Regions from separate parts of the Homo sapiens genome. Here all the other regions are reported to be linked to region 1. The links are microRNA targets in miRTarBase. Many come from high-throughput screens and were not tested one by one. Region 1 holds a microRNA gene; each other region holds the end of a gene's coding sequence. Distances are between the middles of the regions.
What was found. Region 1 holds the annotated microRNA hsa-miR-4738-3p (UGAAACUGGAGCGCCUGGAGGA, at 1,470-1,491, opposite strand). A microRNA usually pairs through its seed, bases 2 to 8, with sites in the 3' UTR of a target mRNA and lowers its output. Matches are read on the target gene's strand: a 7mer-m8 pairs with bases 2 to 8, a 7mer-A1 pairs with bases 2 to 7 and ends in A, and an 8mer does both.

Region 1 (4,065 bases):
CACTTTTTCCAGATTGGTACAACGGAGGAAAAGCAACACAGGAAATGAGGAAGAATAAAAAATGTTTATACAATGAAAAAAAGCAGAAGAAAACAAAACAAACAAAACCCAACAGTGAATGTGATGTAGTCTTGTAGGCTACTGTCCTAGTTCCTCTTGTTACCAACTTGCTGAGTAACTTTGTGCAAGTTACTTAGCTTCTCTGGGTTTCGGTTTCCTCTTTTGTAAATTAAGCAGTTTGGATGATATCATCTCCCAACTCCACCAGTACACACTTATTCTGAAGCTCATGATATACATCTATTATTTAAAATCCAGTGCTGTGAACTCTATTTCTTCAGTCAGATCACACTTGAGTATTGTGAGGCTAACATAAACCAAGTAACTTGCGTTTAATCATAGGATTAAAGCAATATACTACAACTTTTATTTGTCCTTTTGTAATTTTTCATTTTCAAACGCCCCTAGTGGCTAAACGATTTAGCCTGTTTAGGAAAAACCAGTTTCTCAACTCTGTGATGTGGCTTCTGATGTGAGGGAACTTGGAGCTAAATAAAATAAGTATGTGTCACTCAAACATTAACGATTTTCCATTAGCCCCACCACCCTTCATCCCTAAGGTTATTTGGAATGTGTTTCTTTAATGAGATAATCATTTGTTAATATAATCCCATCTAAGAAAATATAAATCAAAACCAGTGGATTTGAAATAGATTCAATATGAAAAACCAAATTAAATGACAACGGTTAAAATATCTACGGAGAACATTCTAAAACTCACAGAAACAAATGCCTAGGTCTGGGGCATCTGGCTTATTTTATAAAGTGAAGAACTTTGCTTGACTGGTGGGAAGCAGAGAGGGGAAAGATAATGTCCCAAGTAAAAAGGCTGACGTCCAGACAAGAAAACTAGAGTGGATAAATACGGGCACGCCCTACTCAAACCCAGGCCTTTCCTCTGGACCCTGTGATGCTTCTCAACACTGGCAACTTGTCAGTGTACCTCAGAGACTATTCTAGGCGGAGATTAAATTCGTCCTTGGCCCTTAATGTACTGGAAACAAGTTGGTCAGGCCAGGTGTCAGGCTGAGAAAGCACACAAGTCGTGGAGTTCCAGGTGTCGAGTTTGGCAAAGGTAAATGAAGCGCCTCGGCAAAGGCGCGGGAACTGTAGCGTGCGGTGTACCTCCTCCTTAGCAAAGCTTTCTCAATGCCTCTTAGGTTAGACCCGCCGCAGGGATGAAGGGGTTGCTGGCGGATTGCAGGTGCCTGCAGCACAGGGCCCAGAACTAAGAACCGACAACACAGATTCTTAAGCCCTGCTTGGAGCACTGCTCTGAGCTGGCATTAGAACCGAACCTAGCTGTACTAAGTATAAAGGCAAAGTAGTTATGACACTGTTGGCAGTGAAATTATACTTGGAACTCTTTCGCAGAAATCGCTAGGGCCTCCCTAGCTCTGGGCCCCTTCTCCTCCAGGCGCTCCAGTTTCATGGAAAGGCTTCCCTATGAAACTGAAAACGCGCTGGTAAGAAGGAGAAATGCGACCGGACTGCAATTCCCAGAAGCCGTCGCAGGCCCTCAGCATCCGGGACACTAGCAGCAAGGATCCCTGGGTATTGTGGTCCTGTGCTTTGCCAGCAACCCTCTGCCGACGGTAAAATTCCAGCCGGACATAGAACCACAACTCCCAGCAACCCCTGCTGCCGTGTGGGGGGTCTTCACGTTCTCGTGGCGCGGCGCAGGCGCACTGGGTCCTCGGCGCGGACCGCGCAGACTGAATAATAAAAGGGGAGCGGCGAAGAGGCAGGAAGACAAGACCATGTCGAAGGGCCCCGGGCCCGGCGGCTCCGCAGCTTCCTCGGCGCCCCCGGCCGCTACCGCTCAGGTGCTGCAGGCACAGCCCGAGAAACCGCAGCACTACACGTACGTAGAGCCCCCCCCCCCCCGCCGCGCGCGCACGCCTGACGTCAGCGGCCAGCGTGAGTCACGCGCGCAGGGAGAGCGCGAGGCGGCCTCTTCCTCCCCCCCTTCCTCCTCCGGCCCGGCCCAGACCGGTTCCAACCTGCTGGGGCCGGTCCCAACTGCCTCCAACTGCCACCAACCTCTGGTCGGGCTGTGGGGCGGGAAACTCGGTCCCGGCCGCCGAGTGGGGAAGGCGGGAGCTCGGGATGCAGAGTGCACTCTCCCTAGGCCAGGCCTTCGAGGCCTAACTGTTCCTCAGACCATAAAACCACAGTAGTAGGCTCCTTTGGGGCAGTGAGAAGTCCAAGACACAACCAAGAGGAGTTCCGTGGGGTCCAGCCCCAGAACCCACCTATGAATGATGATTAACGTGAAGTCCTGTCAGGAGATTCCGTGCAGTTTGCGCAGGAAGCCTTTTGTGTCCCTAAGGCTCGTAGGTTGTCCACGAGGGCCACACTTGCTTGAATTCACAGTCGACGTAGATAAACATGCAAAGATGGAAACGTGTCCGTGCGTGCCCATGACCGTTTCCCTCGCGGGCTGTGCGGAGCCTGAGTCTGGGAGCCCGAAGGTGATGGGTTCCAAGTATGTCTGCAGGCTCAGCAGAAATGTAGCATTAGAGGGAGCCCCAAATACTGACACTACAGGAGTCCAGCAGGATGGGAAAACCTCTTCCTGGAAGTCTTGCATCTGTGTGCTTTTAGGTCGCTGTCTTCATTTCCTTCAAGCCACGTTAAGCATTCCCTAGAGTTAGGTGATGTGGGAGAAAGATGAATAAGGGGCGGTTTCTCCTGTTAAGCAAAATGTTGCTTTCCATTTTCCCTGATGCTCTGTGAATGCCTCTCATCCCCATGGGCTCCTGAGTGATGTGCATGTTTAAAAGGATCCCCAGCTGCGAGAGGTTTTGGAACCTGGGGGGTTGAACAGCTCTTAAGTTGTTCAGTGAACGAAGAACAGAATCATCTGTTGGAGTAGAAAGAACTCAAACCAGTCAGGAGGAACTCTTGTTATAGAAGACCTTGGGAAACTGTTCTGGGGTTGGGGAACATTGGTTATAGGAAGTGTATGGTTTCTTTGTGGGATTCTTTGTTGTTGGCTGAAATCATTTAAGCTTCTTGACTACAGTCTGACTCACGTTAACCATTCCTTTTCTGATATGGACATTGCTTTCCTGGTCCTTTCTTACTGGAGATCTTTCGCAGTCTTTCCATTGATTTTGGTGAGATGTTCTTAGCTCAAAGACTACTGATGAGTTGAATGGTGTAGTCTTGATTTTCGAATCTGGAAACTTCACGTAATTGGAACTTCTTTATAATCTCTGGTTGCTCAGATCACTGTTTTTAGCAAAATAAACACATTTTGAGTCACGAGAGTCTTGGCTTCAGCAACTTGTGTTTCTGTGTTGTGTTGTCATTGAGCATACTATGGAATCTGTAATAGAAAGGCTTTCTTATTTTGGAATTGACAGGTGAAACAAGTGAACAGCTGATTAAATGTCAGTATCTGAGTCTTTGTCCTCTTGATGCTCATTTGTTTAAAACCTGTCTTTCCTGCCGGGCGTGGTAGCTCTCACGCCTGTAATCACAGCATTTTGGGAGGCCGAGGCGGATCGCATGAGGTCAGGAGTGAAGAGACCAGCCTGCCCAATATGGCAAAACCCCGTCTCTACTAAAAATACAAAAAATTAGCTGGGTGTGCTGGCGGGCGCCTGTAATCCCAGCTACTCAGGAGGCTGAGGCAGGAGAATCGCTTGAACCCGGGAGGCGGAGGTGGCAGTGAGCCGAGATCGTGCCACTGCACTCCAGCCTGAGCGACAAGAGCAAAACTCCGTCTCAAAAAACAGAAACAAAAACAAAAAAAAAGCCTGCCTTTCCATTCCTTGTGGGTAAGTATAGAGTAATGGGACCTGGCTCTTGAGGTGTCTTAGGAAATCAACAGGAGTAGGTGAAATAGCCAAGCTTGATGGGAGGTTGTAGGTGTTCTTATCTCTTTGTCTGTTCATATGTATGTGTGTTTTTATATTTGTATTTCCAAAAATCAGAGATAGAAATCAGTGGTCTTTCTTGCTAGACTTACTAGCATTCAGAAGCTGTGATGACCTG
Region 2 (4,065 bases), not on the chromosome of region 1:
CCACAGAGAGGGCCAGCACTAAAAGCAAACTGTCCCCTTCCATTCCCACAAAGAGAGGCCTACTGTGGCCTTCTAGAGGCCCAAGGACCCCTGGTTGGCCCAGATTCTTCACCCCAGAAAGGATGCAATGTTGGAGTGCAGCTAAGATACATCCTGAAGCTATTTAGGCCATAAACACAGGTGGAGAAATTTCCTGGGCTTCTCATTACTTCCTTGCATCTTCCCCAAACAGAGCCCACATCTATGAGGTAAGAGCTCCTGTTGTAAAGACTCAGAGAGCATTAATAATATTTTCCTCTGCTCATGACAGGCTGAGCTCACCCTGTAAATGGGGTGGGGTGGGGAGACCCCCTGGGGGTGGTGGTGTTGGCTCCGGAGATTTCCTGGGTAAAGGAAAATGTTCAAATTCCTGGGCACTGGTGCCCCATCTCATCCAAGCCTTGCCACATCCTTGTCCCATGGGATCTTAGGGAAGTCATCCCCATCCATAAGCCTCAATTTCTTCCTGTGTGCACTGGCCTAAGACCTATTCACTGTCCTGCTTTAGAGAATGGTTGGGTTGTGGGAAAATAAGGGGATGAGCTGGGGGAAATCATCACTGGCCCTTGCTGGGTTACCCCAACATGGCCTGAGATTTTTTTTTTTTGCAAGTTTGTTTCTCCCTGAAGTCACACCTTAAATTCCTACCATTTAAAATGATAAAAGCCACTGTCTTTTGTATCTGCCAGCTATTTCACCCCTTCCTGAGCAGAAAAAAATCTTAGGATTTGTGTTAAATAGCTCTCCCTCCACCCTCATCCTGTCTGGATGTACCAAGATCTAAGAAAATAGCATACAGCAGGCAGATTTGCCATGCTACAGGCTCCTTGCAGGCTGGGGAAGGCCAGCTGGGGCATTGGGCTGGAGCCGAGGGAGGCCAGCAGGCCCAGTGGGGGTGGGTCCCCGGGGTCTGCTGAAATACACCTGGGGAGAGGCTCATCAAAGGAAAAGAGCAAGTTCATCGTGGGGTTCCTTTGCTTGCCTTTGCTTTGAGGCACTTCCTTTTGAACCTCTAAAGTGACAGCCCTTCCTTGATCAAGTCTGGTGTCCCTGGACTTCTGGACAGCTCCAGAGCCCATGCCAATGGAAGCAACTTTTGTCGGCTCCTTTCATGTTCCATCCTCATGGGCCTGGAGATCTGGGTTGGTGACCCTGCTCCGTGGTAAAGCAGAGACCCTGGGTTTCTCATAGAATCTGAGTCTCATGATCCATTGCATATTTAGTTCCAGCAACAAAACAATGAGCAGACAGACAAATAGATGTGATATTAAAAAGTGCACGCTTAAGGGAATGTTTTCACAGTGTCTGATGAAAGGAAAAGAGGCAGCCCCATTGGCCCAGAAGGAGTCTTGGCCAACACGAAGCTGAGTGCATCTCTCTAAAGCTCCATGGACTCCTTGTTGCCAATAGGACAAAGTCTGTACTCGCGATGGGCATCTGTCTCCTGGACCCTGGCTCATCTCTTGCTGCTCCCCGTGTTGTGCTGTGCCCGCACTGGGCTGGCCTCCCCCAGACTGCTTCTCCCAATGCCTTTTCACATTTCTTTGCCATTGCACATATGGATCCCTTTGCCTGAGTTTCCTTTTTTTCCTTTTTATGCTTGTTAAGACCCAGCAGGAATGGACGTCCCCTTCTCCAGGAAGCCCGAGGCCGAAGAGACTTTCTTGCTCCTAGGCTCATGGAACACTCATCCACTCCACACTACTGCACCATGGTTCCATTTCCCCAGCATACAGTGGGCTCTTGAGGGCCAAAGCTGTACCTTCTTGAATTCTCTGCCCCTCATGCCCTGTCTGGGGCTAGACCAGCCTTCAAGATGGAGCTTCCTAGGTCCCAGCCCACCTGAGGCTGTCAGATATTGGGCCTAAGCACTGGCTAGAGATCAAGGTCGAGAGTTTCCCTGGCTGGTCCATTCATAGCCTGAAGGAACAGGGAATTGTTTTTACTGACTAAGAAATTAGATGAGACTGGCTTTCCTGGGGAGCTGGGAATGTGTTACTAAAATATATCTGAAATTCTGCGCTTCCCAGAAGAACTGGCATCAGGAAGAAAGTACTAAATTTCCATTTGTGGAGTTATCTGCTCAGAAGTTTCTGGCCTTATTTTCCCTCCATAAAATAATTGCTTGGCTTAGAGAAGATGAAGAAAACAGCACGGAGAAGTCTCATTGCCATTACCTGCCCCTTTGGAACCCAGGATTTCATTACTAAGGAAGGTGCGTGGGTTTCCTCATTGGAGGAGATGATCAAATGGAGATGATAACAAGTCAGTAGCTCTCTCCTGGGGGTTCTAAGGACTGTGTGAAATGTCCTATGGAAAGTGCCAAGCATGATCCCTGGCATACAGTAGAGACTTAGCAAATGTTGGTTCCCTCTCATTGACTCACTCACACTTTGGACAAGACCCTAGATCTCCAGGCCTGATTCTCTTGGCCTATTTTAAATCAAAGTATAATGGGCTCCACAATGGCCTTTTTCAAGGTGGCTGCTGGGTTTCTTTAGGAAGGAGTTCAAATTTGGACATCCAAATTATGCACAAAGCTGGTGCTCTATTTGCCCCAGAAACCAAAGGGACCATCTTCAGGCTCACCCATCTCTCCTTGCTCAGTGGCATGCTGTCCCAGGGTGGGAGCTTTTAAGGACATTGCCAGGAAAAAATAAAAGGCCCGAGAGATTTGTCTTAGAGGTACATACTCAAACTCCCCCGCCCCCTTCTTTTTGACATAAGAGACTAAGATTTTACACCCTCCAAAAGAAAGTTTCTTTTCACATACACTTTGGAAAATAATCAAATCTTATCTTGTTTGTCTCTTCCAAAGAAAGCTACCACCAAAGAAACACAGGGGTTACATCCTACAGGTCAGCCCAAGCCCTGCCCCAGGGAGGTGGTCCCTTTTTACAAAGACAAGGAGGAGCAGAGAAGTTCCCTGCAGTTCCACCCCCTCCCACTGACCACACAAAAAAGCAAAGAACACCTTTATCAAAAACTGCTGTGGACACAGCTGGCCGGCCAGTGAATGCTGGACGGTCAAGGCCCAGGCTGGGGAAGGGGTACAGAATGGTTGTGGGCGAAGCCCCATGCAGGTTAGGTGTGAGGATGGGGGGCCTCTCTTGTGGCCTAGGGAACATCGTAAGGTCACACTGGTCCAGACTGCAAATGTCTGGTGCCAGAGGCCCCTGAAGGAGGTTGCAGGGGGCAGCAGAGCAGTGACCCCCAAGAGCCTCAATCTTTTCCATGACGTAGAGGAGCAGAACACACATCTCCTCCACTCCTAAGGAGAAGGAGGGCAGGGGAGCCTCCCACTCCCCAGCACCTGCACAGTTGGCTTGCCAAGAGATCCACAAACTCAGAACAAAAGCAGGTGGTCTGGGAGCCAGAAATCCAAGGCCTTGCTTGTGGGTGTACTTCTGCTTGGGCCCTTGGCTGTGGCTGGTTAGGTTGAAAAGGAAGCCTGGGCCTTTTGGAGCAGCATCTCCCACGGCAACAGGAGACCCCTCAGAAGGTGCAGAGCCCCCCGTGGAACACAGGGCCACCAGTCTTCTCCTTGGAGTCAGGCAGGGTGCCACCTCAGAGCTCCTGAGCCCAGTTACTGCCATTCACACAAAAGGGGGCTTGGTCACAGCAGCCTCTGGACTCCGGCAGGTTCCCCATCCCATTGAGCTAAAAGGAGCTTAAATATTCCAGTGCCACCTCGTATACAAATTTATACTGTTCCTGAGAGGCGGAGAGGAGCAGAGGCAGAGAGGGAGAAGAGGAGACGAGAGAGATGAAAAAGGAAAGGGAAAATGCATTTAGTTTAGAGATACAGATTTTGGAGAAAACTTTTTCTATATCCATATTATGTCAACTCAAAATTACCCATATCTGGACATCCTTCAAAATTCTGCTTGATGCCTGCTTCTACCCAAGCTTCCTCGAATGCCCAGCTGGCATCATTCCCTTTCTTTTTTACTGTTTTGTACAACAGGGCTTCTCAAACTGTAACGTGCATACAAGGCAGCCAGAAATCTTTTTAAAATGCACATT
Region 3 (4,065 bases), 4.6 Mb from region 1:
AAGTGCTAGGATTATAGGCGTGAGCCACTGCGCCTGGCCTAGGATTTTAAGTCTTAACGAGCATTTTGGTTCTGCTGATGACAACGGGAAAAAGTAACATGAGGGGACTGATTGGTCCCCTTATGTTATATGGGAGCCTTTTTTTTTGAGACAGGATCTCACTGTGGCCCAGGCTGGAGTGCAGTTGTGCAATCTCAGCTCGCTGTAGCCTCCACCTCCTGGACTCAAGTGGTCCTCCCACCTCAGCCTCCTGAGTAGCTTCGGACTATAGGCATACACCACCACGTGCCCAGCTAATTTTTGTATTTTTGCTAGAGACAGGGTTTCGCCATGTTGCCCAGGCTGGTCTTGAACTCCTGACCTCCACTGACCCACCCACCTCAGCCTCCCACAGTGCTGGGCTTACACACGTGAGCCACACAGTGCTGGGCTTACACACGTGAGCCACCATGCTGAGGAGACTGTTTTAAATGCTCTCTTCTTTGGTTTTTCAGCCTGAGAGACACTCTCGTAAGTTACATGCAAACTAAAGAAAGTGAAATTCTTCCTGAAATGGCATCTCAGTTCCCAGAAGAGATACTGCTCGCCAGCTGTGTCTCAGTGTGGAAAACAGCTGCTGTGCTGAAATGGAATCGAGAAATGAGATAGAATTATTTCCTCAGCTATCTTTGGATGACTTTGGAGAGAAGACTCCTCTCTCCTCGTCTGCGGCGTGGACTTGATCATGGACTGGTGCCTTTGCATTCAGAAGGAGAGCTGTCAGCGTAGCACCGAATTCAAGACCAAGGCGTGCTACCTGAGCTGACAGCTTTTTGAAAGCCGAGCTGTTTCTGAACCATGTACATACATGTTCTGAAACTTTCTCATCATTTTATGAGTACTGTTCATTGAGAGATGACAATGAAGATTAGATGAAATTGGAAATAAACCAACATTGTTTACATTCCAGGAGACTTGTAGCTCAGCCACACACGCAGTAATGACCTGTGCCCGTTCGCCTCTGGCACTGCCCACCCCTCTTTTTTTTTTTCTTCTAATTCTGTACTCACAAAAGAGAATCTCATTTTCTTCTTTCTTCCATTCCCTTAAATTCTGAGTACTGTACATATATTTCTGGGTTCCCACGATGATGTGAAAAACTACCAGACTGTTTTTTGTCTTCTCACAAAGACAAGAAAAATCAGGGCATTTTGTGAGTGCCTTAAGATCAAACTAACAAGATCTGACCCTCTCCCCTCACAGTGAGCCACTGCCCCACTTCAGAGGGTAAGAGCCAAAAGCCTCATTGTGAAAGGCACTGGACTTGGACCAGGGACACCATCAGGGCCTTGGTTTTCTCACGCATAAAATGGAGAGTGGATTAATCGCCAAAGATTCTTCTGATCTGACATTTTGAAATTGTGAGAGAAACTAGATGACTGTAAACTTGGTCACAGGCCTGGTTCTGGCAGTTCTTTGCGGACTTTTTTCTAGCATTATGCCAAATAAACATGCAGTCTCAGTGTGCTCTCGCATGTATGAATATCTAGTCCTTTCTGTGGTTCTCAGCCAAGACATAAAAACTAGGACTCAGAGCACATACAAAACCAGTTATGTTTCGGAAAGAGGGAAAAGAGTCCCCGAGCCCGGATCTTGTGCTGCTTTTCTCACTGACGTGTTGCCTTTTTTCTTTACAAAATCTGCTTTGATACTTAGGACCTCTCTGGACTAATTTCTCTTCCTAGACAGCTCAGCACAGCTATTGATATGTTAGAGGCAGTATCCTTAATATTCATTCTAAATGAGTTAACGACTTAACTTGAAATTGGGCCTAAGGAGTGAGAACTACAAAAATACAAAATGCTTGTCCAGGACTCAGCCATGCACACCTTGAGCAGCGCCGGCAGGAGGCACGGAAGGAACTGTGCTCCGTTCTCCTCACTGTCATGGTGCCACCAGTGTCTGATGAAGGGCAGAGTGACCCAGACTGCAGGCAGTAACTGACTTCACACAGTCCCTGGCATTTAGTCATCTGTGATTGTTTTATCACTCTGGACTGTGCAGAGCCACCTGCCACCGAGATCTGCATTCCGACTGCCTATGAACGGGTGTGGGGGCCGGGGGCTGGCTTGCTGAAGTCTTCAACTTGCACTCGGAGCTCCTTTGATACCTCAGAGCTGGCTGTCAGGTGGCAGCTCACACCCAGACTCACTGGCCACACCTCAGCAGGGGGGGAGTCGAGTGTCAGTCTCTTTCTGTGAAGGCTTTTTTTTTCCTTTGGCCTGGGAATTTTTCCCATTTTTATGAAGGGGTTTTAAATTGTTTCATTTTGTGTGCTGTGCTTCAAAGCCTTAACTGTCAAATCTTGCATTATCTTGTTTGTACAGAAATATACTGGCCTAGCAGAGGCAAAAAAAAAAAAAATGAATTTTATTTTACTTGTCACACCTGTCTTAATAAACTGGAGTTTTGCTGCTAAAGAACTCTTCTCTCTGGGGGCAGAGCTTCTATTTATGGCACATAGACATCAGCTAGGCTTTTGGGAATCGTTTGTGTTCTTTGTGGAAATGTCCTTTAGAAGCACCCATGAAGTAGTGTGTTCAGACTGTGCACACAGAAAACAGGCTCTGCCTTCACATGTGAGACGGTGGACTTTTCCTCTGGACAAAATGACAGCATCCTGGCGACTCCACAGTGGAGCTGAGCGCCACTCCCTGTAGCCGATCTGGGACTGAAACGCTTACACCTCTGCCTCAGAAGGAGTCCCCCATGCCCTGCCTGAAATGACTTCACTGGACACAGCGGGGCTGCAGCTAACGGGGTACAGGTAGGAGCTAACTAACTTCACCCCTGAGTCCACTTGCGGGGTAAGAGATAAACAGTAACCCTTCCAGGAGCCCACTGACGTTGGAGTGCTAAAAATGCCCCTTCAGGGGGAAAACTGCATTTTCTCTTCCAAAAAGGAAAGGTTCTTCCAGGCGAGAAACCTGTGGTCTAGAACCACAGCAAGAAGAGGAGGCATGCTGGCCTGCACCGGAAGACTCACTTTGTCTGCCCTGCGCCAGCCTCACCTCACCCTGCAGTTCCCGTTTCCGCCATGGATGCCTCATCACCAACCCTGACCTTCCCCCTCCCAACCCTTTATTCATCCTCACTCCCACTCATACCCGCCTCCCTGGACAGTTCCCTGCTGCAGAGTTCTTTCTGCTTTCAGCCCTACCTTGGTGGTGATTTACCTGAAAATCTTCACAACTGATCATTATCTCCTTCTCTTTGAGACCTGACTGAAAAAATTAGGTGTGCACACCTGTAATCCCAGCTACCTGGGAGGCTGAGGTATGAGGATTGCTTGAGCCTGGGAGTTTGAGGCTGCAGTGAGCTATGATTGCACCACTGCACTCCAACCTGGGTGACAGAGTGAGACCCTGTCTCAAAAAAAAATAAAATAAGGACCTTATTGTGTGTGCAAATTATTTGCCTTTCATGAATAGTTATGAGACTTTGTGCATGTGTTAACCGAGACGGCCCTGAGCTATTTCAGTTACTCCTGTATGTTCAGGCAATTCCAATTTAGAAACAAACTTCCAGTGATAAATATTGGGAAGAAAATGTCAGCTCAGGGCCAAGTAGGTAAAGCCACCCAAGTCTAGCCATGCACACAGGCACTAGTGTGCTGAAGGAAAACACCTCTGATTTGATACATAAAGTGTGAAGGTTGCATAACTGGGGAGGTGGCTGGAGAAAACCTGAGCCTCGAGCTGAGTAACAATCCAAGCCATGATTAGCATTTATATTGCATTCTGCATTATTCTCATCCTATCACGTTCATTAAGTTCAACCATTACCATTACGAATCCCGTTTCCAGCTGGAAAAACAAGCGCCAGGAAAGTGCATTTCCCCCCCACCCCCCCCCCCCAACCAGAGCAACTTTGGTCAGAAGTCACACCTAATCACCCTCTCTGCAGGATATGCTGGGGATAGCCCTTTTGAGGAGGTGGGGGTGTATGCGAAAGCAACCTGGGGCCAAAGCAGGGGGAAGCAGGAGAGACTGGAGGGGCCCTGGGTCCAGCAAGTGCTCCACCAGG
Region 4 (4,065 bases), not on the chromosome of region 1:
GGCCCAATCTTTCTTATAAATTTTCTTAAATGTAACTTCAACTCAACCAACTTCAAGGTCACCTGTGATTCTTTCTGTAGTCAATATTCCATCTGTTTGCACTGAAGCTTTATTCCTTCAATGCCTAATTTTTATGAAACTGATGAGACTAAGTTTCTAGTCTCATAAGTCATCAAATCTAGTGTCATGAGCAGAGAGGTTGTTGAGATGTATGTGGCAAGGACAAAGGACAGCTCTTCAACAATTGCCCTTCCTGTTTTTCCTGTAGGAATCGTAACATCATTTACATGTTATATCGAAATGGGCCATGTGTGTGTAGCTGGCCTTTTTTTTCCTACCATGTACTTGTGTGTTCTGGAATCAGTCAGCTAGAAAATATTTACCAAGTGTCTTAGGCTTTTTCACTGTAGTGTGCATTTAACGTACACAGTAAAGAATGAAGGCTGGCACTAAACTGTTAGCTAATCATCCGGTGTTCCATGTGAATGACAGAACACGGAATAAACCTGATGACACCACCACTTTATTTTGAGCTAAATCCTCATTTAAGTGAGAACAGGACAGGTTTCACCACTGCCTCCTTTGGCAACTTGAGTGGTGGTGTTCCCACCGAGTTTATGGCTGCAAAGATAGGTCTTTTCTCGTATTTATGTATAAACAGGTACCAGTTTTGATTTTATTTAATCATTTCATACATTAACATACATGACACATCAAAATGAGAAATGCACAGTTTAACCGTTCAACAGCTGGCCTTACTTCAAAAGAACACTATATTCATATTAAACATTTACAGTCTTTCCATCTAACTTTACACATGTCCTAAATCATTTTCCAGCACTTCTCACATAGAAGTCTAGTTTTGCTCTTTAAAATCACCATCTGTATCACCCCTAGTAGACGCGAGGGTTTCCCCAATTACATGCTGAAGAGAGCCAGCCACCACCCCACCTAAAGACATCCAAGCAGCTCCAGAGCCTGCCTCCGAGGCCACCCCTTCGCCACGGCAGTCTCGATTCCAAGAACTGATTATCTGACACTAGTGAACCAGCACTAAAGGCTGTAGGATGTGACTACATCACAGTTCCAGAAGGAAGGGGGACCATGGCCAAGAGAAGCCCTAAATGACAGAAGCTCATTAAAACCAAGTCCCCCAAACCTCCTGAAACATCGTTAGCAAGGAGCTACTGCTTTCCTTTCTTAAACATGTTTTGGGCATGACCACACTCTGGAAGTGGTGAACTGTTACACATTTGGTGTGTGTGTACATAACATCAAAAACTACTGTGTGAAACTTGAGAATGTCTGATTAAAGATTTCAATGTATATCTAAAAACTAACTCAAATCGTTGACCAGCACTTTCCCAGTATCATAACAATGCGGCTGACCCTCTTCTGCCTTCACTTTACACCCCATCATAGCACATTATTTGTGCACAACTAGTGAGGTCTGTGCGGCTCATCATCCCCATAACCAAGTCGGTCTGTGTTGAGTCATATCATTCTGTGCTGGTTTTAGAAGTCACCATAGGAAACATGAAGTCACATCCTGGTCAAAAAACTGTCCATTTCTCAAAAACAGAGAAAAACCTGAGATACGAGGCAGCAACTAGCGACACTTACAGGAAGGGAAAGAACAATGACAACACCCGCCCAGCCCCACCCCCAAAAAGCTGCTGTTGTGAATTAAGGCTTCAAAAGAGGACCCACATTGTAGCTGATAAAACTCAAGCCAGGAGGATGTTTGAAAGCCAATCTGCACTATCACTTGTTCCAGTGACCTCCTATGTTCAGCTGCCAGGACCGATTCCATACAGTGATTGTAGGTTGAGGACTGAGGACGCCCCTTTGCTCTCGCTCCATTTTGATTTGCTTTTTCCACTGAAGACACGCCGGCCAGCGTTTCCAAAAACAGCTTGGCCATGGCTTTGCACTCTATTCACAACTGATCAAAACTCAATGGTCTTCTCAGCTTTCTCAACCGTTTTATTCTGAATATTCCTTCCTCACTAAAGCCTCTCTCAGCCCTACTAGTAAATGTGAAAGTCTGAGGCAATCATAGAAACATCAGCCCCATCGCATGCCGAGGGGATAAAAGCCACTAAGGAAACAGGTTTCCTGCTTCTCCTCAGCAATTTGTACCTTTCTTAATCTTCCCATAATTTACCTCCCTAGGAAGTTTCCTATAAAATTCTGCCATATTATTACATTTTACCAACTGTATCCATGCAGTGAAGCAGAAAGGGCAAAAACATCTGCTTTGGCTGAGAATTTGAAGGTGCTGCTGCTCTGCTACCAACCCAAATAAATTCACATTTGGCTTGAAACCAAGTTCATCTTTATTTAAAGGATTGACAATCCCATTTTAAACAATTCTTTGATTTACAAAGAGGGAGGTAGACTCGTTAGCCTCCCAACCTTAGCTTAAATCGTGATGTTGCCAGGTTCCTGGTGGTTCAGCTGAATCCTAGACAGTTTCCCTTCTCTTCATAAAGCTGAGAAGAAAAAAAAATTATCTCCATCTAGGCCCACGGGAATTTTGTGCATAGACAGTTTGAATTGGTCTGAAAAGTGTGACTAGCTACCTACCTATTCACAATGCCTAGAAAATGGGCTACCAGATATGGTAGTGGTCAAAGCCCCGACTTTCCTGTCTGAGGTACTGGGTTTGCTCTAAGGTAGACCTTGGCAAGGCCCCTAATGGTCCGTCCAGCAGAGTGATGCTCGTGTCCCTCGGCTGTCAGGTGAGCGTGGGTTTGTGAATCAGCTTTGGATAGGATCATTTCTCTTGGATTTACCACTAGGCTCTGTCCCTAACAGGGTCTACCTACCTGACCCCCAAGCTGGCTCAGTCTCAGCGCTAAGGTGTACTATGGAAGGGTCCGGACAAAGACTAATATTTGAGATCTCTTAGTAGCACAACGTGAAAATGGTAGGGGATTTTGTCCTCCAACACCAAAGACACTTGCTTTTTTAAGAACAAGAGGATGTGTAATTCACTGAATAAAATGGTTTTCCTCCGTCTAGGGGGGATTCTAGCATCTGCCCTTCCATTTTTGTTGAGAGAAGTATTAGCTGATCTCTCAAATGCAGATGTTAAGAGAGTAACAACTGGGTTGATCCACCTGTTGCTTTTACACCATAGCTCCATTTTCCAAAAATATATATGTATGTACATATATATATTTCAGATTTACAGGGAATTTTTTTGTGAACAAGAAAAAAAAATTGTCTATAGAAGTCACAAGTGTCTTTCTTCTCAGGAGACCTCAATGATTTCCATGCTGCCCGAAAAGCTAGACTGACTGCCCACTTTCCCCAGCTCTTCCCGTGACCTGTTCTCTGACATGATGCTCTCTCCAAATTCCATTTGGCAGCTTCTGCGTTTAAACTGCTTTTCAAAGGGGCTCTCTTCATGCCAGCTCCGCCGCGAGTCAGCTCTGTCACTTGGCTTCTGCCGCCTGCGCACAGAATAGACTTGGTCTCCGCAAGTGGGCAGCTGGCTGCAGCTGTAGGCAGAGTAACTGGCACTGCCTCCGTAGATGGCTGAGGCAGAGTAGAAGTGTGAGGACTCTGTGGCAAAATACCAGCTGCTGGTCAGGGAAGGGGTAGAGGTCTGGGGGGCCAAGATATCCGAGTGCCAGCCCTTAAGGCCCAGGCCAGCAGACTTCGTGAGGTGCTGCTGGCTGGTGGAAAGGCCGAAAAGGAAGCTGGTGTGGTAATTGTCCTCCACGCTCCCACTTCGATGCAGTGGAGATAAAAGGGACCTCTGGGCGGTGCCACTGCTGCTGGTTCTGACCGAATGCAATCGCTTGCTCTGGCTGTCTGAAGGCCTGGCGGTCTGCAGCTTCTTGGGGATGCTGGCTTCCTCCTTATCAGGACTGGTTTCGGGAGTCTGCTCCGATAGTTCCTGAACAGGGGAGAACTGGCATAGCTTGTTGGTCCCATCCAGAGTAGTGGAAGGTTTGTAGTATTCCAAAGCATCTTCTGATGAGGAGAAGCCATGTAAGGATGCTGCCATGCTGGCTGAATATGAAACTGATTTGATATCCAGAGAGAAGGAAC
Region 5 (4,065 bases), not on the chromosome of region 1:
CCATCCCCATCAGTCACCCAGCCTGGTCAGGCAGCAGACATTCCCTCACTACGAGGCAAGCAGTGCTACCACCAGTCCCTTCTTTAAGCCTCCTGCTCAGCACCTCAACGGTTCTGCAGCTTTCAATGGTGTAGATGATGGCAGGTTGGCCTCAGCAGACAGGCATACAGAGGTTCCTACAGGCACCTGCCCAGTGGATCCTTTTGAAGCCCAGTGGGCTGCATTAGAAAATAAGTCCAAGCAGCGTACTAATCCCTCCCCTACCAACCCTTTCTCCAGTGACTTACAGAAGACGTTTGAAATTGAACTTTAAGCAATCATTATGGCTATGTATCTTGTCCATACCAGACAGGGAGCAGGGGGTAGCGGTCAAAGGAGCAAAACAGACTTTGTCTCCTGATTAGTACTCTTTTCACTAATCCCAAAGGTCCCAAGGAACAAGTCCAGGCCCAGAGTACTGTGAGGGGTGATTTTGAAAGACATGGGAAAAAGCATTCCTAGAGAAAAGCTGCCTTGCAATTAGGCTAAAGAAGTCAAGGAAATGTTGCTTTCTGTACTCCCTCTTCCCTTACCCCCTTACAAATCTCTGGCAACAGAGAGGCAAAGTATCTGAACAAGAATCTATATTCCAAGCACATTTACTGAAATGTAAAACACAACAGGAAGCAAAGCAATCTCCCTTTGTTTTTCAGGCCATTCACCTGCCTCCTGTCAGTAGTGGCCTGTATTAGAGATCAAGAAGAGTGGTTTGTGCTCAGGCTGGGGAACAGAGAGGCACGCTATGCTGCCAGAATTCCCAGGAGGGCATATCAGCAACTGCCCAGCAGAGCTATATTTTGGGGGAGAAGTTGAGCTTCCATTTTGAGTAACAGAATAAATATTATATATATCAAAAGCCAAAATCTTTATTTTTATGCATTTAGAATATTTTAAATAGTTCTCAGATATTAAGAAGTTGTATGAGTTGTAAGTAATCTTGCCAAAGGTAAAGGGGCTAGTTGTAAGAAATTGTACATAAGATTGATTTATCATTGATGCCTACTGAAATAAAAAGAGGAAAGGCTGGAAGCTGCAGACAGGATCCCTAGCTTGTTTTCTGTCAGTCATTCATTGTAAGTAGCACATTGCAACAACAATCATGCTTATGACCAATACAGTCACTAGGTTGTAGTTTTTTTTAAATAAAGGAAAAGCAGTATTGTCCTGGTTTTAAACCTATGATGGAATTCTAATGTCATTATTTTAATGGAATCAATCGAAATATGCTCTATAGAGAATATATCTTTTATATATTGCTGCAGTTTCCTTATGTTAATCCTTTAACACTAAGGTAACATGACATAATCATACCATAGAAGGGAACACAGGTTACCATATTGGTTTGTAATATGGGTCTTGGTGGGTTTTGTTTTATCCTTTAAATTTTGTTCCCATGAGTTTTGTGGGGATGGGGATTCTGGTTTTATTAGCTTTGTGTGTGTCCTCTTCCCCCAAACCCCCTTTTGGTGAGAACATCCCCTTGACAGTTGCAGCCTCTTGACCTCGGATAACAATAAGAGAGCTCATCTCATTTTTACTTTTGAACGTTGGCCTTACAATCAAATGTAAGTTATATATATTTGTACTGATGAAAATTTATAATCTGCTTTAACAAAAATAAATGTTCATGGTAGAAGCTTTTGCCCATGAAGGGCTGTTCTTTCCCCTTTCCTTTATTAGTAAATGAATTTATTTTTCGTTCTTTTGGTCTTACTCTCCATTCTACTGCTGCTGTAAATCCCTAGTTTAGTGACTAGAAAAATACCCTTAAGATTCATATTTTCATTCATACTTTAATCCTGAGTGTATCTCTAAAGTCAGATTCTTGCTGCTCAAAGTGTGGTCTGTAACAGCAGCATGGACTTCACCTAGGAGCTGGTTAGAAATGCAGAATCTCAGCGGGGTGGGGCAGTGCTTCTCAACCTGGGCTATGCAATAGAATCACCTGAGGATATCTTTTTAAAATCCTAACGCCTGGCCTATATTCCAGACCAATTAAATCAAAATTTTAGTGGGGCAGGGGGACCCCCCAGGTTGTGTTTTTTTTTTTTAAGCTCGCAATATGGTAAAGTTGAGAACCACTGGCCTAGAATGAGTTTTACCTCTAATCTTAGCCCACTATTCTGTGACTGGTTCTATTAGAACTAGTTAGCTGCTAGCTAACCTCAAACTTACCTTCTGATGTGTTTATACCAATAGGCCAAAATCTGGTTTAATTAAACTGGGGATTTCAAAAAAGTGGCCTTTATTTTCCAATTTCTATAGCAAAACCAGCCATAAGTGAACATGGATGCTCTTCAATATTTTTCCAGTATTAAATGAAAAAAGACCTCTGCCCCAGCCCACATTTCCTTTGTTGAATGAGTAGAGAAGACTGAGAAGTATCACTCACCCGTGATGTGGTTTGTCCCTTTTCCAGCCAGTGTGTTGGTAATAAAAGTCACCTTTCAGAGCTTTGGTCCCTGTAATGCCCGTCTTTCCTGTGTCCAGGAATAACCTTTGCTACTAGGCAGTCCTCTGAAAGATTTGTAGAAGGTTAAAGTGGAAAGGGACTTGGAAGCTCATAGAATCCATGCCTCTTCTTTTAGCATCAAGGAATTAGAAGTCCTGAGAGATGAAGAATGTTGTCTTCCAACTCAAACCATTTCTGAAGCCATTTCCCTGTTACTGCATTGCCCACAACCCTTCCCCATTGCTATCCTCATCCTGCTAATGCTGTTTTTAATGACTGACAGTCTGATTTGTCTTTGGCAGCAAACATTTTGCTTCACAGATTCCTACTTAAGGAAGAGAGGGGCTCCTCATTGTCACTGTACAGAGCAGGCTGGTCAGCTTTACACAGGTGTCAGATGAACCGTCACAGCCAGATTTGCATGTTGGCCTCAGGAGGGCTTCAAGGTCCAACATCTCGACGTAAGGAGCGTTTCCAGTTCTTTCATGCTCAGATAACAGTGCTAACTGCAGCTGTTTCATCCCAAATCCCTATTTGAGGTCTTAACATCTATTCCATTTTGCCAACAAGGGTTATGCTGTTAACCCTCTGCACCAGATTTAGAGCTGACTGATGCACTGCCTAGAAGGGTGAGAGAGACTAGAGCAATGAACCATCGCTGATTTTAGCACAGAATACTTCCCTGATACAGCAGGACTTGGCATGCCCTTTAGAAAACAAACAGGTGTTAACTTTGAAATCATTACACATCTCCCTGCCCAGCTTTAAATTAAGTGGAACCCTGACAGCTAGCTTTAAAACACATTGATGGGCTGGGCACAGTGGCTCACACCTCTAATCCCAGCATTTTGGGAGGCCGAGGCGGGCGGATTACCTGAGGTCGGGAGTTCAAGACCAGTCTGACCAACATGGAGAAACCCCGTCTCTACTAAAAATACAAAATTAGCCAGGCATGGTGGCACATACCTGTAATCCCAGCTACTCAGGAGGCTGAGGCTGGAGAAGCGCTTGAACCCAGGAGGTGGAGGTTGCAGTGAGCCAAGATCGCACCATTGTACTCCAGCCTGGGCAAGAAGTGCGAAACTCTGTCTCAAAAAAAAAATAAAAAAAATGCATTGATGGCTGGGCGTGGTGGCTCATGCCTGTAATCCCAGCACTTTGGGAGGCTGAGGCGGGCAGATCATCTGAGGTCAGAAGTTCGAGACCAGCCTGGCCAACATGGTGAAACCCCATCTCAACTAAAAATACAAAAATTACCCAGGCATGGTGATAGGCATCTGTAATCCTAGCTACTCAGAAGGCTGACACAGGAGAATCAAGAACCCAGGAGACGGAGGTTGCAGTGAGCTGAGATCGCGCCATTGCCCTCCAGCCTGGGCAACAAGAGTGAAACTCTGTCTCAAAAAACAAACAAACAAATGCATTTAACTATTCCTGTGTAACAAATTATAAAGGGAAGCTGTAAAGTAAAGGTTTTTCTTATCCAAACAGATTGCTCTTCTTGAAAACAGCAGCCTGTGGTTATGTCAGAGATGCAAACACTGCTGAAGGCTACAGAGAGAAGCTGGTAACTG
Region 6 (4,065 bases), 39 Mb from region 1:
TTAAAAATGACAAGCTCATTATATAGGTGCTAATTTTAATTACTTTGACTACTGAACACACGCCAGGTACTAACAAAGAAGGGAGTATTCACCCTGGGGATTTAAATCTGTGAAAAGGTATTAAAACATATATAAAACATAATAAAATGAAATCCCAAAGGTCTCTTTCCATCTGAGCTTACTTTCCCTAATTTGGGTTTGTCTCTTAGGTCCACCGGGCATACTTAGTATCTTTGGACAAATAGGAATTCAATGAAAACGTATTCTTAAAGGCGAAAAAGGTGGATTTGCTAGGTAAGTTGCTGTTTCTCAAGGAGGTAGCCTGGGTGCTATAAATCCAATCCAATCTAATCTAATCTAATACCATACAATATAATACAATCGATACAATAAAATCAATATCCCAAGGAAAACGCTTAGAAAATTATTTCATGGCAAAATAATTTTTCAAAGTTTTCACTGTGCATCTTCCTGGTTTTAGAGTAGGCACTTATTTTTATTTTCACTATTGCTCTATTTTTAGCCATAACCACCAGTACTGCAGCAAATACTTCTTGAGAATTATCCTATGTACTTTAAAATGAAAAGTATCTGCTTTTAGAGAGCAAACCTCTAATTGACGAAATATATAATTGCTACATTAAAAGACAGTTGTCTGTTGCCTATTATTTCATTTTGATATTGGCATTGTGAAATGCAAGTTCAAAGGATTTGAAAGGCCAGGAAAGTAAAGGCAATCAACAGCAGAACACATTTTGCTGGTACCTAATAAAGAACAGTTGGAGGGACGGAGCTGTAATAAATTATCAGCAAACTACCATTCTTTTTCTTAGGTCCAAATGTGTGAGACGCTAGCCACAAAATGCAGGCATAAATGAGATCTATCTGTTCTCCAGGCTACCTAGGTTTAAAAAAAATGAAAAGTACCAAGGTATTCCTTATTATGTCTTAGCTTCATAGACTATATTTAAACTCCTAGGGAGGAACATAAGGTTCTTGTATGATTTATATAAATACATTGGACATTTATGCTCAATAAAAATAAAACTGGTTGTCATCTTCGGCACACAAGAGCTACTGGGGCACGTGTAGTAGACATCCCCAGTTTATAATTGTGTAAAATTAAAATTGGCCGGGTGCGGTGGCTCGCACCTGTAATCCCAGCACTTTGGGAGGCCGAGGCAGGCGGATCACGAGGTCAGGAGATCCAGACCATCTTGGCTAACGGTGAAACCCCGTCTCTAATAAAAATACAAAAAATCAGCCGGGTGTGGTGGCGGGCACCTGTAGTCCCAGCTACTCGGGAGGCAGAGGCAGGAGATCGTGCCACTGCACTCTAGCCTGGGTAACAGAGCAAGACTGCGCCTCAAAAAAAAAAAATTAAAATTATGGGAGTCACTTTCTGAAGGGCATAGATAGGCTGAGGTCCTGGACAGATTATGTTCTTCTTACTCCTCACTTTGTTATCTTTCCCTCTCCTCTGCCCTCAAAAATTGATAGTTGCAAGGAAAATGATAGTTGATTAGAAGACTTTTTGTTGTTTCATTATAATAACCACAGTTTTATGTGGTAAGACAATCTATGGCCACAGAATGTTATTTAAATTACCATAGTGACCTAAACCTGAGGATCTGTGGATTGGGTTTTCTTTTTCATGAGCTGACACTGGGAAGTTCTGTTTTATCTGTCAAAAATAAACACACCTGGTTGGGTGCGGTGGCTCATGCCTATATCCCAGCACTTTGGGAGACCAAGGTGGGCGGATCACTTGAGGACAGGAGTTCGAGACTGGCCTGGCCAACATGGTAAAACCTCATCTCTACTAAAAATACAAAAATTAGCCAGGCGAAGTGGCGTGTGCCTGTAATCCCAGCTCCTCGGGAGGCTGAGGCAGAAGAATTGCTTGAATCTGGGAGGCGGAGGTTGTAGTGAACCAAGACTGTGCCACTGCACTCCAGCCTGGGAGACAGAGCAAGACTCCATCTCAAAAAAAAAAAAAAAAGACAGTAGAATATTAAACGTCATTATAGGCCAGGATCACGACGCCTGTAATCCCAGCACTTTGGGAGGCTGTGATGGGAGGATCACGTGAAGCCAGGAATTTGAGACCAGCCTGGGCAACCCCATCTCTATTTTTTACAGATTTAAATTAAACCTTAATTTAGCCATAGTTTTATTAAATTACACTGGGTACTTGATGACTCTCATCTTTCTTATTGGTTCTCCTTTCCCTTAGCATGGTAGGTGAGGATGCCTGATGTGGCCCCTGCCTGCCTCTCCAGCTCTCTGCCCATGCTCTTCCTTCTTCTGTGTTCAGCCTTCTTTCAATTCCATTATGTGCTTGGTGCCCTCCCAACGTAGGACTTTTGCTGAGGGAGTCATCCATCTATAATGTTCTCTGCCATTTGCCCCCCAGCCCCCAGACACATAAGACTTTATAACTCCTCATCCCACTAATCAGCTCTAGCTCAAAAAAAAAAAAAAATCTGTGGGGAAAACTTGACTCCTTACTAGGTCAGTTCTTGATTTGACACTCTTGACAACCTATGCTTTTTCTTCATAACTTAGCATTTCACAATAGATGTTTAATGTCTGTTTCCTCCACTAGATTGCAAGCTCTGAGGTATCAGGAAATTTGTGCTGTGCTTCTTAAATCCCTAGCATAGGGTAGGCTAAAAGATGAATTAATCCCAAAGCAAAACTTTGTCTCGTAATTATTATGTGTATAAGCTATAATATAACATCCAATTCAGTCTATTTTTTTTTTTGTAGACAGGGTCTCACTGTTTCCCAGGATGGTCTTGAACTCCTGGGCCCAAGCAATCCTCCCACCTCAGCCTCCCAAAGTGCTAGGATTACAGGCGTGAGTCACCATGCCCAGCCTTCCATCTATTCTTTGGTGCATTTAACTGTCTGACTTCATAGTATATAAGTATTTTATTTTTAAAATTTTTCTTTTTATATCCACCCATCTGCACATTGGAGTGTTTGATTTTAAACACTTGCTTCTTAGTCCTAGGTTTTATTCAAAAATTTAAATTGAGCAATAAACAAGTATTGACAATCCACAGTTCACACTGAAATGTCAACATAAACATTTCATTTTATATTTATTGTAAAAGCAATATACAGTAAAAATACAGAATAGCATAAGGTTACATTAAGATGGAAAGTAAAAATTTTCCTCCCCCCACCCCAACAGTCTTTCAATGTCACAACTATAAAGTTTCTTTAAAATACTACTTAATACATTCTAACAAGTCAAAAGGCTTTGTTTCTTCTTGGTTTTATTGTTGAGATACATTAAAATATTAAGCATTGGCCCAGTGTGGTGGCTCACACCTGTAATCCCAGCACTTTGGGAGGCCAAGGTGGGTGTTATCACTTGAGTTCAGGAGTTTGAGACCAGCCTGGCCAATATGGCAAAACCCCATCTCTACTAAAAATATAAAAATTAGCTGGGCATGGTGGTACATGCCTACAGTGCCAGCTACTCAGGAGGCTGAGGCAGGAGAATTGCTTGAACCCGGGAGGTGGAGGTTGCAGTGAGCTGAGATGGCACCACTACACTCCAGCCTGGGTAACAGAGCAAGACTCTGTCTCAAAAAAAAAAATAATTAAGCATCACTGCTGTTTAGATGACTGAAACTATTTTATAATAAAATATGGTTAACACTGTTGCCAAAAGCACAATTTCTTTACAATTAATATTCCTCATTAAATATTGCCCAAATACTTATATATCCTACTCCTGCTGATCACCAAAATTGTACAGTCTTATCTTGCAAATATAGTACATATACAATTAAACAGTTGGAAAACATATAGAGATTGACCACAAATAAGGCCCACAAGGTACTGCTGTGTAATGTATCTACCATCAGGTTGATCAGGCCAGTTGTTATATTTGACAGCAAGAAAAATATTAACTGTTTTCTGTTTAGAGCTGTGATTAAACAAAGACTGGGTTCCATTCTTTCGGCTTCAGGGACTAGAGATTCTGAATGCTTTTTATTTGTAACAGGTGACTGGATAAGTTTCCAAGAACATGGTACTAGAGCTCCT
Region 7 (4,061 bases), not on the chromosome of region 1:
GGGGGACTCCACACTGGAGGAGCGCACTTTCCGCATCTTGGGGCTCCCGGCCCCCGAAGTAAACCTGCGGGACGCCCCCACGCAGCCAGGTAGCCCAGAGCACCAAGCCTTAGGCCCAGCAGCTTCGGGAGCCCAGGGCAGAGCCGAGGGGTCGGAAGTGGCGGTGGTCCAGCGGCGCGCCGGCCGGGGCTGGGCGCGGACCCCAGGGCCCTACGCCGGGGCCCTGCGAGAAGCCGTGTCCCGTATCCGCCGCCACACAGCCCCTGACTCGGACACGGACGAAGCTGAGGAGCTCAGCGTCCATAGCGGCTCCTCTGATGGAAGCGACACAGAAGCCCCGGGCGCCTCCTGGCGGAATGAGAGGACCCTGCCCGAGGTTGGAAACAGTTCGCCAGAGGAAGATGGGAAGACAGCGGAACTGAGCGACAGTGTCGGGGAGATCCTAGATGTCATAAGCCAAACCGAGGAGGTCCTCTTCGGGGTGAGGGACATCAGAGGGACCCAACAGGGAAATAGGAAGAGGCAGTGAGAGGCCCCTTCTTGTATTTGTGTCCCCAACGCATCCATCCTTGGGTCCACTGGTCCCCATTCTTCCCCACAGACTTCCTTTGCTTCTCTTTTCCTTGTATCTTTACCCATACCTGTTCTCATCCTTGAAATATAAATGAAAGGAAGGGAAGCATATGCCCATTAATGATTTTGTTTCAGGAGAGGTGAGAATGAGCAGATTTAATTAATGTCTGTTATGTTCAGGGCACAAGGGTGAGCTCTTCGCAGGGGCTGATGCACTGGGTGTGGAGCTGAGCAGAGAGGCCTAACCAGGATCAGGCAGGAGGGCAGGGATGGTGGCAGCCATAGGAGGGCAGGGTAGGGTAGGGCCTCTGAGGAGGAGGGAAAAAGTGAAGGAGAGGCTTTGGACCTGGTGACAGAGTGATCAGATGACAGAGGGGTTCTTGGGAGAAGAGGCATAGGTCCAGCAACAACCAACAAAGCAGAAGGAGGGCTCACCTTGGTGTCACAAGTCTTGGATTTCAATCCCAACTCTGCCACTGAGTTGCTGGTTGACTGAGGCCAGTCACTTTCCCTCTCCAGGCCTCCAGGCCTCCTGGTATATAAAATGATGGTATTCTAAGGTCCATCCTTCCGTCTCTGACATTTTGAGATCTTTGGAAAGGACTCTATCTCATCCTCCCCTCGACAAGCCAAGAATGAGAATTGGGAATAAGTGAACAGAGTTTGAGGGTTTCTGGGCGGCCTCCGTGTCACCCAAAGTCATGATCAATTCAGGAGACTGCCCAAGGCTTGCAGAAGAGGTAAGGGAGTGAGGCACTCCTATCCCAGTCTCCCAGGTTTGGTTGAGGGCTCCCCAAGGCAGGGCAAGATAGCGGCCCTGTCACTGACCCTGGCCTGTGGTGGTCTGAGCTGGGGAGGGAAGGACACCAATGAATCAGCTTGGGACCTCTTTAGGCCTTCCCCTTTTCCTCCACCCCGATGCTCCTTAGTGATGCTCTGAGGCGTGGCCACGATCTCCCTCCCAGGTGGTATCGCCCACCTGAAAAAATCCTGAGAATTTCTCCCATCTTGGCCTCTTCCAGAAACCGGCCAGGCAAGGAAAGAGGCCGGTCACCAGAAGCCAGCAGGCGTGGGGTGTGATACTCTCTATAGCCACTACAGGGCGCGCGCAGGTCGCGGATCTCCCCAGTTGCTAATCCCGGCTCTGCCACTCAATCCTATCCCTAGTTCCCGAGCGCGGGTCCCCCGCCTTGCAGTCTCCAGCCGTGCGGGGCCGGGAGCAGGCCTCCGGCCTCCCAGACTTCTAGAGCCCGCCGGGCCCATCTTTGTACTCATCCACCCCAGCCGGCTTGGGACTCAGACACCGAAGTCTTTTTTTTTTTCTCTCCGATCCTTGGACACCTCCTCTGTCTGCCATTTATTAGCCATGTGAACTTGGCCACATCACTTCACCTCCCTGAGCCTCAGTTTCCTCATCTGTCAAATGGGGGTTTATAAACACCTACCTCGCAGGGTTGTTGTGAGGATTTAATGCGATAATGTATGTAAAGCGCCTTGCACACTGCCTGGCACACAGTAGGCGCTCAATAAATCTAAGCTTCCCTTTATCCAGCCTTGGCATCGTCTTCCTTTCACTGACCCTTTCCCCACAGTGGCCCTCCCCCGGGACTCCTCTGCTACTTCCCGCTCTGTGTGAGGGGAGGGGGCTGCTTTCTTCGTTGGGAGCTCCTGGCCCACCTCTTTTCTCCCCCAGCCGGGACTCTCCCTTCCTTGCCCCCAGCCCACCCCTGTCGGCTCTTCCCACTGCCCTGGCGCCCTCCCCCCACCCCCCATTCCGGGCAAGGGCTGAGTCAGCCGGGGTAAATTTAGCTGCCGGCTCCGCGGGCGCGGGGGCTTCTCCCAGACTCAGTCGCCCGGTCCTGCCCCGGCCCCCAGCCCCCGGCCCCCTGCCCGCCTCTGCTCCCACTCCAACCCAGACCCCTCAACTCCAACTCCCGCTCAGCGTTCAGGTCCCCAACCCCGCTCTCAAACCACTTATGGCTTTAGTCTCCAATTATCTCGACCTCACTCCCGCCCGCACCCAGAGGGACTCTGGGCAGAACTCGGAGTGGGGCAGGACCGCCTGCGGTGGGGGGTGGCGACGATCTGACAGGAGCTGGGCCGCTGGCCTTGGTTCAGTGGAGGAAGGTGTCCTCTTTGGGTTTCTGAACCGGAGGGAAGACACTGGTCAGAGCTATCCAGGAAGATTCATCCCAGAGACTTCCAGGAACCCGGACTGCCAGGTTTCAAGTTAGCTCTAGCTGGAGGAGTGTCACCTTGGGCAGAGATCAAAGGTTCCTGAGATCTGCCCTTGAGGTCAGGAATTCCAGACCAGCCTCCAACATGGTGAAACTCTGTCTCTACCAAAAATACAAAAGTTAGCCAGGTGTGGTGGTGTGCACCTATAATTCTAGCTACTCAGGAGGCTGAGGCACAAGAATCGCTGAATTGCTTGAACCTGGGAGGAGGAGGTTGCAGTTAGCCAAGACTGGGCCTCTGCACTCCAGCCTGGGCAACAGAGCCAGACCACATCTCAAAAAAAAACAAACAAATAAAGGTTATTGAGACCTGTCTCCCTTTCACCTACAATTCCATCTACCTACTACCAATTCTAACTATGAGCATGTACTGAGCACCTACTGGGAGCAAGAAACTGTGCTGGATACAGGATAGGGATGAGTAAGGCCTTTCTGACAATGGGGTGAAGGTGAGCAATGTGTTAAGTATTACAAGGAGTCAAACAAGGGAGATCGTATGGATTTTGTGAGATAAGGGAAGGCTCCATGGAGGGGAGGAGATGACCTCAGCGGTAGAATTTGGTGAAGAGGCATTTCAAGTAGAGGGATCAGCCAAAATAGAGGCATGGATGCAGGTAAGCAGGGTATGTTTAGGAAATTGCTCAATGGTCTGATTTGCCTGCAGTTGAGCGTACATTTATGGCAGTTGTAGAAGATAAGGCAAGAGTGAAAATTGAGGCCAGATTGGGGTAAGCCTGGTCCAGCTGAGGAGTATGTGCCTTGGACCTTCAGGCTTGGGAAGAGGCTGGACTTCAGGTGAAGGGGAAAGTTGAGGAAGGGCGGGGTGTGGTGGGTCACACCTGTAATCCCAGCACTTTGGGAGGCTGAGGTGAACAGATCACCTGAGACGGGGACAAGCCTGGCCAACATGGTCCAACCCCACCTCTACTAAAAATACAAAAATTAGCTGGGTGTAGTGGTGCATGCCTGTGATCCCAGCTATTGGGGAGGTCGAGGTACAAGAATCACTTGAACCTGGGAAGCGGAGGTTGCAGCAAGCCGAGATCGCACCACTGCACTCTAGCCTGGGTGACAAAGTGAGACTCTGTCTTAAACAAACAAACAAACAAAAAAAAAAAAACAAAAAAAAAAAGAAAGAAAGTTGAGAAAGACCAGGGCAGTGATGAAAGCATCTGCCTAGATTTTTCTACAACCAAAGGGCTCTAGAGCTCTGGGACTGGTAGAGGAGGTGAGCTGTATGCAACAGTGGAA

Region 2: miRTarBase lists PTPRT as a target of hsa-miR-4738-3p. The part of its 3' UTR that is shown has no 7-base or 8-base seed match.
Region 3: the mRNA of RNF213 is a reported target of hsa-miR-4738-3p. The part of its 3' UTR that is shown has no 7-base or 8-base seed match.
Region 4: the mRNA of DUSP16 is a reported target of hsa-miR-4738-3p. Seed matches in the 3' UTR shown: 7mer-A1 at 1,290-1,296 and 8mer at 135-142.
Region 5: the mRNA of NUMB is a reported target of hsa-miR-4738-3p. Seed matches in the 3' UTR shown: 7mer-m8 at 1,299-1,305.
Region 6: miRTarBase lists PIGW as a target of hsa-miR-4738-3p. Seed matches in the 3' UTR shown: 7mer-A1 at 3,644-3,650.
Region 7: the mRNA of DDN is a reported target of hsa-miR-4738-3p. Seed matches in the 3' UTR shown: 7mer-m8 at 1,978-1,984.

What each region holds. Positions count from the first base shown.
Region 1 is chr17:75,783,061-75,787,125 of GRCh38, forward strand. MIR4738 (microRNA 4738) reads right to left here and starts at 1,547; the gene lies at 1,461-1,547. UNK (unk zinc finger) reads left to right here and starts at 1,746. Exons shown (of 16, transcript NM_001080419.3): 1 at 1,746-1,924. The coding sequence starts at 1,821. RefSeq lists enhancers at 98-277, 1,840-2,418, 2,008-2,407, 2,419-2,996 and a silencer at 1,808-1,947.
Region 2 is chr20:42,077,180-42,081,244 of GRCh38, forward strand. It overlaps PTPRT (protein tyrosine phosphatase receptor type T), which reads right to left. Exons shown (of 31, transcript NM_007050.6): 31 at 1-3,753. The coding sequence ends at 3,700. All of the region lies in intron 2 of LOC101927182 (a long non-coding RNA gene), which reads left to right. Among named protein-coding and RNA genes, the nearest start is that of CHD6, 460 kb to the left of the region's middle.
Region 3 is chr17:80,392,851-80,396,915 of GRCh38, forward strand. RNF213 (ring finger protein 213) reads left to right here. Exons shown (of 68, transcript NM_001256071.3): 68 at 495-4,065. The coding sequence ends at 648. The region is part of intron 1 of RNF213-AS1 (RNF213 antisense RNA 1); the gene reads right to left. Among named protein-coding and RNA genes, the nearest start is that of ENDOV, 20 kb to the right of the region's middle. RefSeq lists an enhancer at 2,419-2,920.
Region 4 is chr12:12,473,574-12,477,638 of GRCh38, forward strand. DUSP16 (dual specificity phosphatase 16) reads right to left here. Exons shown (of 7, transcript NM_030640.3): 7 at 1-4,065. The coding sequence ends at 3,260. Among named protein-coding and RNA genes, the nearest start is that of DUSP16, 87 kb to the right of the region's middle.
Region 5 is chr14:73,272,826-73,276,890 of GRCh38, reverse strand. It overlaps NUMB (NUMB endocytic adaptor protein), which reads left to right. Exons shown (of 13, transcript NM_001005743.2): 13 at 1-1,675. The coding sequence ends at 313. It overlaps PAPLN (papilin, proteoglycan like sulfated glycoprotein), which reads right to left. Exons shown (of 27, transcript NM_001365906.3): 27 at 2,268-4,065. Among named protein-coding and RNA genes, the nearest start is that of PAPLN-AS1, 29 kb to the right of the region's middle. RefSeq lists an enhancer at 1-363.
Region 6 is chr17:36,538,310-36,542,374 of GRCh38, reverse strand. It overlaps PIGW (phosphatidylinositol glycan anchor biosynthesis class W), which reads right to left. Exons shown (of 2, transcript NM_001346754.2): 2 at 3,072-4,065. The coding sequence ends at 3,759. It also overlaps a transcript of MYO19 not described here. Among named protein-coding and RNA genes, the nearest start is that of GGNBP2, 4.6 kb to the left of the region's middle.
Region 7 is chr12:48,993,208-48,997,268 of GRCh38, reverse strand. It overlaps DDN (dendrin), which reads left to right. Exons shown (of 2, transcript NM_015086.2): 2 at 1-2,120. The coding sequence ends at 529. Among named protein-coding and RNA genes, the nearest start is that of DDN-AS1, 3.1 kb to the left of the region's middle. RefSeq lists silencers at 1-302, 1,509-1,803 and an enhancer at 1,509-1,803.